Linked DNA regions of Homo sapiens. The main gene of each other region encodes a partner of the protein of the gene in region 3 in a complex. Each region holds a gene or a part of one and is shown on either strand. Other genes may lie near its edges.

Evidence for each region.
Region 1: CACNB3 (region 3) and STAC3 share a complex: the UniProt entries of both Homo sapiens proteins name them as parts of the calcium channel complex.
Region 2: CACNB3 (region 3) and CACNG1 share a complex: the UniProt entries of both Homo sapiens proteins name them as parts of the calcium channel complex.

What each region holds. Positions count from the first base shown.
Region 1 is NC_000012.12:57,245,416-57,248,187, forward strand, and holds part of STAC3 (SH3 and cysteine-rich domain-containing protein 3), read right to left. Parts: coding exon 2,711-2,772; intron 1,487-2,710; coding exon 1,389-1,486; intron 1-1,388. UniProt on the Homo sapiens protein: Required for normal excitation-contraction coupling in skeletal muscle and for normal muscle contraction in response to membrane depolarization. Required for normal Ca(2+) release from the sarcplasmic reticulum, which ultimately leads to muscle contraction.
Region 2 is NC_000017.11:67,054,474-67,057,374, reverse strand, and holds the end of CACNG1 (voltage-dependent calcium channel gamma-1 subunit), read right to left. Parts: intron 2,273-2,901; coding exon 2,135-2,272; intron 1,331-2,134; coding exon 1,104-1,330; 3' UTR 578-1,103; downstream 1-577. UniProt on the Homo sapiens protein: Regulatory subunit of the voltage-gated calcium channel that gives rise to L-type calcium currents in skeletal muscle. Regulates channel inactivation kinetics.
Region 3 is NC_000012.12:48,821,403-48,825,059, reverse strand, and holds part of CACNB3 (voltage-dependent L-type calcium channel subunit beta-3), read right to left. Parts: intron 1,717-3,657; coding exon 1,594-1,716; intron 1,380-1,593; coding exon 1,257-1,379; intron 803-1,256; coding exon 687-802; intron 392-686; coding exon 327-391; intron 112-326; coding exon 92-111; intron 1-91. UniProt on the Homo sapiens protein: Regulatory subunit of the voltage-gated calcium channel that gives rise to L-type calcium currents. Increases CACNA1B peak calcium current and shifts the voltage dependencies of channel activation and inactivation.

The DNA.
Region 1 (2,772 bases), 8.4 Mb from region 3:
GGCTGGAGTGCAGTGGCGCAATCTTGGCTCAGTGCCAGCTCCGCCTCCAGGTTCACGCCATTCTCCTGCCACAGCCTCCTGAGTAGCTGGGACTACAGGCGCCTGCCACCACGCCCGGCTAATTTTTTGTATTTTTAGTAGAGACGGGGTTTCACCGTGTTAGCCAGGATGATCTCAATCTCCTGACCTCGTGATCCACCAGCCTCGGCCTCCCAAAGTGCTGGGATTACAGGCGTGACCCACTGTGCCCGGCCATGCAGGGACTTTCCCTAAAACATCCTATCAGGTGGGTCACCCACATTCTGCTTGAATGTAGCTAAATAACAGGGAATTCACTACCAGATTCCAGGTCCTTGACTATGCTGTCAGCCTTTAAAAATACTCCAGTGTGTAAGTAAAAAGTGAGCAGCATGGTCAGGCGCGGTGGCTTATGCTTGTAATCCCAGCACTTTGGGAGGCCGAGGTGGGCGGATCACCTGAGGTCGGGAGTTCGAGACCAGCCTGACCAACATGGAGAAATCTCCTCTCTACTAAAAATACAAAATTAGCCAGGCATGGTGGCACATGCCTGTAATCCCAGCTACTCGGGAGGCTGAGGCAGGATAATCGCTTGGACCCGGGAGGCAGAGTTTGCGGTGAGCCGAGATCGTGCCATTGCACTCCAGCCTGGGCAACAAGAGCGAAACTCTATCTCAAAAAAAAAAAAAAAAAAAAAAAGAGCAGCACAATTTTTATAATTCCCTTAAAAGAATATAACCCAAGAGTATGTTAGCCCTTCTGGAAGCAGCCATATCACATTGCTAGTGCCTTACAAGTCATTAATTCACTCCATAGAAATCCCTTATCTGTGTCCAACCTCCATATCAACAAGTTTGAGGCCAGATTTCTAGTTGTTTTTTGCAGTTGATTTTTTTGATCAGATATGTACATTTATCTTTTCTTTTCCCTTCCTTCCTTCCTTTCCTTCCTTCCTTCCTTTTTTTTTTTTCTTGACAGGGTCTCACTTTCTCCCCCAGGCTGGAGTGCAGTGGCTTACTGCAACCTCTGCCTCCCGGGTTCAAGCGATTCTCCTGCCTCAGCCTCCCAAGTAGCTGGGATTACAAGCGAGCACCACCACACCCGGATTTTTTATTTTTATTTTTGTATTTTTAGTAGAGACAGGGTTTCACCACGTTGGCCAGGCAGGTTTCGAACTCCTGACCTCAGGTAATCTGCCCACCTCGGCCTCCCAAAGTGCTGGGATTACAGGCGTGAGCCACCATGCCTGGCCGAGTTTTGTGCAATTTTAGGGGAAGACAATCCATTACTTCTGTCAGCTTTCCAAATGGGAAAATGACCTGCTCCATGGGATCTCTGGGAGGGACCTCGTGGGGAGGTACAGTGCTCACATTTTTCTTATCTGCCTGTCCCTTCTTCCGTTCCTTGTTTGCCATGATCACCCCAGTGCGCAGGGTTTCAAACACAGGATCATTGCGATTGGCAGCAGCTAATCGAATGGGAGGAGAAAGAAGACATTATTGGGAAGGCAGAGAAAGGCTTGGAGGAAAGGAAGGGAGAGGTGGGATTGAGTAGATGGATACCCATGTGTGTGTTGGGTGGCGGTGGGGGCGCCGCGGGGAAGATTAGGGAAGGGTCAGCTAGGCAATACCCAGGACACCAATCTATAAAGGACTTTAAAAACATCACTGGTGATGTAAAGTGAGGGAGGAAAGTATTTATTAGAACTCCTTCCAGGCAGAGCATTATATGATGTTTGAAACACAACTTTGCTTGCTTGGGAGCTGAGACATGCGCAGAATCACTATTCTCCTTCTAAGGAGAATGGGCCCTTAACTGCTGGCTTTTGTTCTGCTAAATGGCATGTGTAAGCTGAGGTGCTGCCACCAATAGGTTCTTCTTTTTCACCCATGCTCTTCACAGAGTTCAGCCTCTCCTCCAAATAAATGTTGAGCAAATTTGTCAATGAATATGTTTTTAAGGGTTGCCAAATTATTATTATTATTATTATTATTATTTTTTTTTTTTTTTTTTTTTTTGAGACGGAGTCTCGCTCTGTCACCCAGGCTGGAGTACAGTGGCACAATCTCGGCTCACTGCAAGCTCCGCCTCCCGGGTTCATGCCATTCTCCTGCCTCAGCCTCTCCGAGTAGCTGGGACTACAGGCGCCTGCCACCACGCCCGGCTAATTTTTGTGTGTTTTTAGTAGAGACGGGGTTTCACCGTGGTCTCGATCTCCTGACCTCGTGATCCACCCGCCTCGGCCTCCCAAAGTGCTGGGATTACAAACGTGAGCCACCGCGCCCGGCCTGGGTTGCCAAATTATGAACCTGCCCAGGGTGCCTGCAGCCTTTGGGTCTTGCCCCGAGTCTGATATGACTCTGTAGTAAGGATGAGGACAATCTAGAATCCTTGTTCTTGCTTAGAAATGATTTTGCACACAAAGAGCACAGATTCTGAAGCTAGCAACTGAAGATTCCAGTCTTGGCTCTACCTCTTGCTAACTGTATGTAGTTGCAACTAAATCGTATCTCCCTCTGCTGTAAAATGGGGATATTGCCTCTGCATCCAAATGGATATAAAAATGTGAGGTTGAGGGAGAATTATGGGAAACAGAAAGTTTCTGTTTCAGAATTTGGCTCCCAAAGCTAGAGATGGCATGAAACCATCTCTAGGCTTGCCCATTCCCTCATGTTCCATAAAGGGCACTTACAGAGATCTTTGACACAAGCGTACTGCTGGTTGCTGTAGAGTGGGGAACTATAGGCCCGATGG
Region 2 (2,901 bases), on a different chromosome or scaffold from region 3:
GGGGCAGGCCAGGTGTGGCCTATGGGCCATAGTTTGCCAAACCCTGCCCTAGAAGCGTGAACTCCAGTGGGTTCTCCGGGGTGCAAGGCAAGGATCCCATCTGCCGATCATGTCTGAACTCCACTTTGGAAGCCTGGGCAAGTACTGCGGGGTTTTGGAAGGCAGAAGAGTGCAAATCATGGCTCTCCATGTGGCCCTAAGTGTCTAACTGCTAAGCCCTGCTTCCTGATGTTCTTCACAAGAAAAATCCAACATCAGAAATCAGACACTGGCTGGCTGCTTTAGCGCTGTGTTGGCACCAGGTGCGTTGCATGCCAGGCTCTAGAAATAACCCCTCCTATTTTTAACACCCTTGCTTCATCAGAGGGTTTCTAGTTTCTCCCGAAAACAATCTCAGGGCCTAGAGATACGAGTTGGAATTCAGAGCCTCTAAGCCACGTGCGTTGCCCTCTTGTCCCCACAAAAGACCTCAACATACCCGGGTGACCGGCCTTTCCTTCTCATTCGGCGTCAGGGGAGCCCCTGATGTGACTGGGAATCCGAGCGATTTCTATGCAAGGCTCCAGGAAAGCATGAGTTTTCTGAGAGCTTTTTATTTCAAGCCACAGTCAGATTCTACCCAGTTAAAAATGCTTCCCAGGGCTCCTGGAAGCCAAGGAGGGGACGCTGGGCTCACCAGAGAGGGTGTGTTTTATCACCGAGAAAGAGACAGGCTGGCTATTTACACGGAACACCCAGCTGGCAAACACAGGTTGTCCCTGCAATGTTCATAAAGGACAACTGGAGGCAGCTTATCAGAGGCTGGTACAGTGGGGACACCTCTGAGCTCCAGGGGAAGTTGGGCCCCTGCAAACACCTGTCCACCTGCTGGCTCTGCCTCCCCCAACTGTGGCCAGGTTAGGACTCACGTCTTGCTCTATTCCCAGGGGAGCCTGCGGCAGCCCAGAGGAACTCAGAGAGAGGAAGCAGCCTGCGACTGTTGCAGGGGGGCAGATGGGAGCAGGGTGGGGCTAAAATTGCTCCCGCCTCCTCTCTGGAAGGTTCCAGGCCAAGACCCCGCTTCCTGGGGAAGAAGCCTGAGGGTCGCTAGGGCCGCAGGAGGGTTAGTGCTCGGGCTCAGCATCCATGCAGGACTCCCATGGGTTCCGGGGCATTCGAGGCAGGGAGAACAGCAGGAGGGCGAGACCGCCGAGAAAGAGGAGGATGAAGGCGGCACAGGCGCAGGCAAAGGACCAGGAGTAATAGTACTCGATCCAGACGGTGTCCTCACTGTCAATCATGCGCTTCACCGACTGCCGCATGACCTCCACCGAGACGAGGATGCAGAGACCTGGGGGCAGAGCCAGGCATGCTCAGGGACCGAGGGGCGTCTGCCGTAGCCACCAGCCCCATCCCAGCCTGTGTGCATGGAGGAGGCGGTGACCTTGCCTTGGGGGAAAAGCTGCCTCAAGGCAGGTTCTAGATGGGAACCTGCAGAAGGATCCATTTGTCCACCCACCACCCTATTCCTGCATCCCTCAGAAGGGCAACCATGTGGCCAGGTGTGGTGGCTCACACCTGTAATCCCAGCACTTTGGGAGGCTGAGGCAGGAGGATCGCTTGAGGCCAGGAGTTTGAGACCAGCCTGGCAACATAGTGATGAGCCCTCCGTCTCTACAAAAAATTAAAATACAATGAAAAATTAGCCAGGTGTGGTGGTGCACGTCTGTAGTCCCAGCTACTAGGAGGCTGGGGCGGGAGGAACCCTTGAACCCAGGAGTTCGAGGCTGCAGTGAGCTGTGATTGTGCCACTGCACTCCAGCCTGGATGACAGAGCGAGACCCTCTTCCTCATCCCCCAAGAAAAAGAAAGAAAGGTGACCACGTTTCTTTCCTTCTTTTGTTAATCATTCTCTGGGCAGTTTCTTTGGGGCCTTGAGGGTTGAGTCGTGGAGAGGAATGGACAAACCGCCAAGCTCTGTCTCCCTCCAACCCACCTGGAGTCGCTGATGGCCTGGCCAGGTTTGCCCCTGGATGGGGATGGAGCCTGGGAAATGCCCCTCACCCAAATCTCGCGGTGGGCATGAGGGTGGAGCGGAGAATCCCCCGCGACATGGTCCCCCGGCCCCGGCGCTCAGGCAGATCCCCCAGTCTACCTGCAAAGGCATAGAACATGGACGCGGGTCGCAGCAGATAGTCCCTCTTCTTCCCGAGGGACAGGAGGACACAGAGGCTGCCCAGGATGATGAAGCCAAGGCTGAAGATGGCGATGGCGGCTGCCGAGATGCTGTACTCTGCAAACACAAGGGACACCCAGCATGCGGCCTCAGCATGGGAGCTCTTGTCATGGCTCGTTAGGGACCACACCATGCACCACAGTGTGTGTGTCAGTGTCTGTGTGTGTCATTGTGTGTGTGTCAAGTGTGTGTCTCTGTGTCTGTCTTGTGTGTGTCATTGTATGTGTGTATCTGTGTGTGTGTCAGTGTCTGTGTGTGTCATTGTGTGTCATGCATATGTGTCAGTGTGTGTCTCTGTGTCTGTCATTGTACGTGTGTGTCAGTGTGTGTCTCTGTGTCTGTGTCATTGTACGTGTGTGTCAGTGTGTGTCTGTGTGTGTCACTGTGTGTCATTTTGTGTGTCATCATGCATGTGTATCAGTGTGTGTCTGTGTCACTGTGTGTCATTTTGTGTGTCATCATGCGTGTGTGTCAGTGTCTCTGTGCGTCTGTGTCTTGTGTGTGTCGTGTGTGTGTATCTGTGTTGTGTGTGTCTGTGTGTGTCAGTGTGTGTCTGTGTGTCTGCCCACTCACCCTGTGTGCAGCTGTCTGGGCGCAGGCAGGCACGGGTCTGTACTCCCGACAATGGGTGTGCGTCTGAGCTCTGCGGATCCTGAAAAGCTCCCAGAGCCCACCGCACCCTCCTG
Region 3 (3,657 bases):
CTGTTCTGCCCTCCAACAATGACTGCCTAGAACACTGTCCCCAGAGCCATAAGCCATGATCCCCCCAGCCCAGGTCCCTTCCTTGACTCACCTGCTTTTGCTTCTGCTTGGCTTTTTGGAAAAGGAAATACAAGATTAAAGTTGGTGAAGGGGGAAAGGTCCCTGGGGGCATGGTATCCCCGTCCCCAGGGGAGATACTGGCTTCTCCCCACCCCTTCCAATCCCTCCACAAACCCTTCCCACACAGTTCACTTGGGCAGGATCCCCTCTTTCCCTGTGTCTTAGCTACCCACCTACCCAAAATGGGTGGGTTGGGGGGAGGCTACCTAGAGATGGCGGAGGGGAGCGTCGGTTGCCAATGTCACTCAGGCTGGAAGGGTTCCCAGATCTCCTGAGAAGAAAGGGAGGTGAAAGAGAGAGAGAGAAGAATGTGTCTCTGTGTATGTATGTTCTATGCATTATTTAATAATTGTACACAATTCCATATGCTTTATCTAGTGAGACAGGTGTACATGCAATATGTGTGTGTGTTTGTAGATTTGTTTAGTGTTGAGTGTGTAGAGCTGGGCATACGTGTATGTGTATTTCAGGGGGATATGCATGTGTATGGCATGCATGGTGACGTGTCCTGTGGGTACAGTGCAAGTGTTTGGGGTGTGTTTACTGACTCATGGCCCAACTCTCACCTGGCCTTCTGCTCCTGTTTGAGCCGGATGCTCTCCAGGCGCTGGGGGCTGGGGATGAAGGCGATGTCCCCGCCCTCTTTCACTAGCCGCCCGATCCACCAGTCATTGCTGTACTTCTGGGGGCAGGTGGAGCAGGAAGGGGTGGTGAGAGAAGCGCCCCGCCCCAGTCCTGGCTCTTCAATGTGAAGGAGCCAGCGAGGCAGTCACTGAGCTGGTCTGAGGAATGCAATGCAAGGGGCGGTGGGCAGAAGGGGCCAGGGGAAAGGACAGCCAAGTTCGGGCCACCCAGGATTTCTGAGTGAGGCATTGCAGCTGTCACAGGGGACCTCGGAGGCAGCTAATCTAACTGCTCACTTGACAGACATGGAGACTGATGCCCAAGCCAGGTCTCAGAAGGATGGAGACCCTGGGGATGAGATCTTAGATATGAGGGGTGGACAGGTGTGTGTTAAGGAGAAGAGCTGATTAGCTTGGGGAATTAGACTGAGGATTCAAGTCAGAAGCATTAGGATCTGGAGCAAGAGCAAGAAAATGAAGTTAGAGGCTTCTGGAAGTAGGGGGGTCGATCACCTCTTTAATGTGCAGAAAATCTTTGGCCTCAAAGTTGACTCCAGAGCCCTGGACTGGGCACTCCTCATCCAGTACGCCACAGTAGCTGACATTGGTCCTCACCGCAAATGCCACAGGTTTGTGCTGGAGAATTTGCCCATTAGTGCAAGTGAGAGAAGGCTCGAAGCACCCCTTCCAGCTTCAGTGCCCCAACAGCAGAAGGCCGTGGCCTCTGCCCATCACACACACCCTCTCACACTCAAGGACATCCTGCCCAAGGACCCCTTGGGACTTAGGACCGAGTGCAGGTTTCCACCTAGCTTGGCCTCCTGTCTTGCCCCATGCCCAGAAAGTATACCTTGGCCCTTTCGAGCTGCTGCTGAGCCTGGCTCTCTACTTCACGCCGGGCACTCTCCCGGTCCTCCTCCAGGGAGACGTCTGAGTCCAGAGATGGGCGGCTGGTGTAGGAGTCGGCTGAACCCTGGGTTGGGAAAGAGGCTGTGACTCCCAGGCTCCGGCATGAAGGATGCCATGGAGGCACCCTCCTCACCTTACAGTGTTGCCTCTATTGCCCCCAGTTTCTCCATCTCCAAGGGGATAGCTGGGTCCCTATGGCCCCTCCTATCCCCTGAGAAGGGCCCCAGTGCCTCTGAGGCTACAGGAAAGCTGGCCCAATCCATAGGTGCAAAGATCTGGGCCCCTCCTCCCCCAAGCCTATTAATACTGCAGCTTTGAATAGAGCCTTCACTTCTCTCTTTCCTCCCTTTTCTCCCCTCTAACATGTCCTCTGAGCCGAGGGAAGGGAGGTGTGCTGAAGATGATGTATTAGAGATGATTCTGGATCCAGGAGACCCAGCCCTCTTGTTCATAGCAGCCTGCAAAGCAGCCTGGACATCATCCCTTTAAGATGCCTGTCAGGAGTCCAGCCAGCCGCAACAGTCAAGAGATGCTGGTTGGCACAGCACCAGTCCTGAATGTGGGGATCCAGCCATCTGCCCCCTAAGATTCCACTTTCCCTACTCCAACAAGGCTCTGAAGGCTCCCAAATGGTGAGCCCTTACCCTTCCAGGGTGAAGAGGAGGACACAAAGCTGCCAGCTCCTAGAAGTTACCTCCCCTTTGCTCTCCCCACCCCCTACTTTTCTTCCTTCCACACCTGCTGGGGCAACTAGCCAGGTGTGGGCAGCAAACAAGACACAGACCAAGAACACAAAGCTGTCTCCCTGGGTGCAGGTGAGGCTGGGCCACACCTACCACTTGGCCTACATCTCCCTAGTCCTTTCCCAGGCCCAGGGGACATCAGCCCTAGAAGAAGGCTATGCTAGTGCCAGGCAACCTAGCTACGGAGCAGGACCCCGGGGATGTGGGGAGGGGGTAACATGAGCAAGGAGAGTCTCTGAGTCCTGCCCATAGGAAAGGTCTTGGGCAATGAGGGTGCATTTGACGGTCACAGAGTTCAGCCTCAAGACCATGAGGGAGAGGCACAAATGAGTAAGGGACGCTGGACTTTGAGACAAGAGCCCAGAGGTTACAATGTCTGGGTTTCCTCCTCTGTCAGGGAAAGGGAGTCTTTCGTTTCCTGCCTCAGTTTTCCCTCTCTGTGGGGAGAAGCCTCAAGTGATACTTCCCACAATTCTGAGATGCCAGTGGCAGAGAGAAGGGATAAGCCTAGATAAGGGGTTCATGCAGGAGTGTGTGTGTGTATAGGGGAAGGGGCTTTAGAATGTCCTCAGGTAGAGGAACATTCTCTCAAGCTCACTGGGCATGACCACCTACGGAAGGCAGCAGAGGCCAGACTCTCAGAGAAGAAGGCAAAATCACATACCTGCTGTCAACCATGCCCTCTACCCCTACCCTGCCGTGGGCAAGAGGGCTGTTCAGCTAGGGGTCAGCCCAGGCTCTCGAGCCTTAGGCTAAAGACAGTGTCTATAGTAGACCAAAGGCCTGAAGATAGCACAAGGGGGAAAGATCTTTCATTTTACAGAAGAGTAGTCCGCCGACTGTTCCTCATCTCTCCTGAGAACAAAATGAGGCTGGATGGCAGCAGGATAAGTGGGGGATGAACCCCAGAAATAATCTTTGCACAGGGTGAGGGACCTCCTTCCCAGGGGTCTTAGGACACAAGAGAAACCTCTGTGGGATGTTGGTGTCTGAAGCAACCAGACAGGGGCCAACAGACTGGGAGGCAGGAGGCAAGGCAGATGACCACTCGCTTTGGTACAGATACATTGGGTACCTCCCAGAGGCCCAGAACTGTGCTAAAAGAGGAGTCTGACCTTTTCTGCCTGTGCTCCAGGCTCTCAGCCCAATTTAGTAATCTTTATTTTTATTATTTTATTTATTTACTTAGAGACAGGTCTTGCTCTGTCACCCAGGCTGGAGTGTAGTGGCACAATCGTAGCTCACTGCAGGCTTGAACTCCT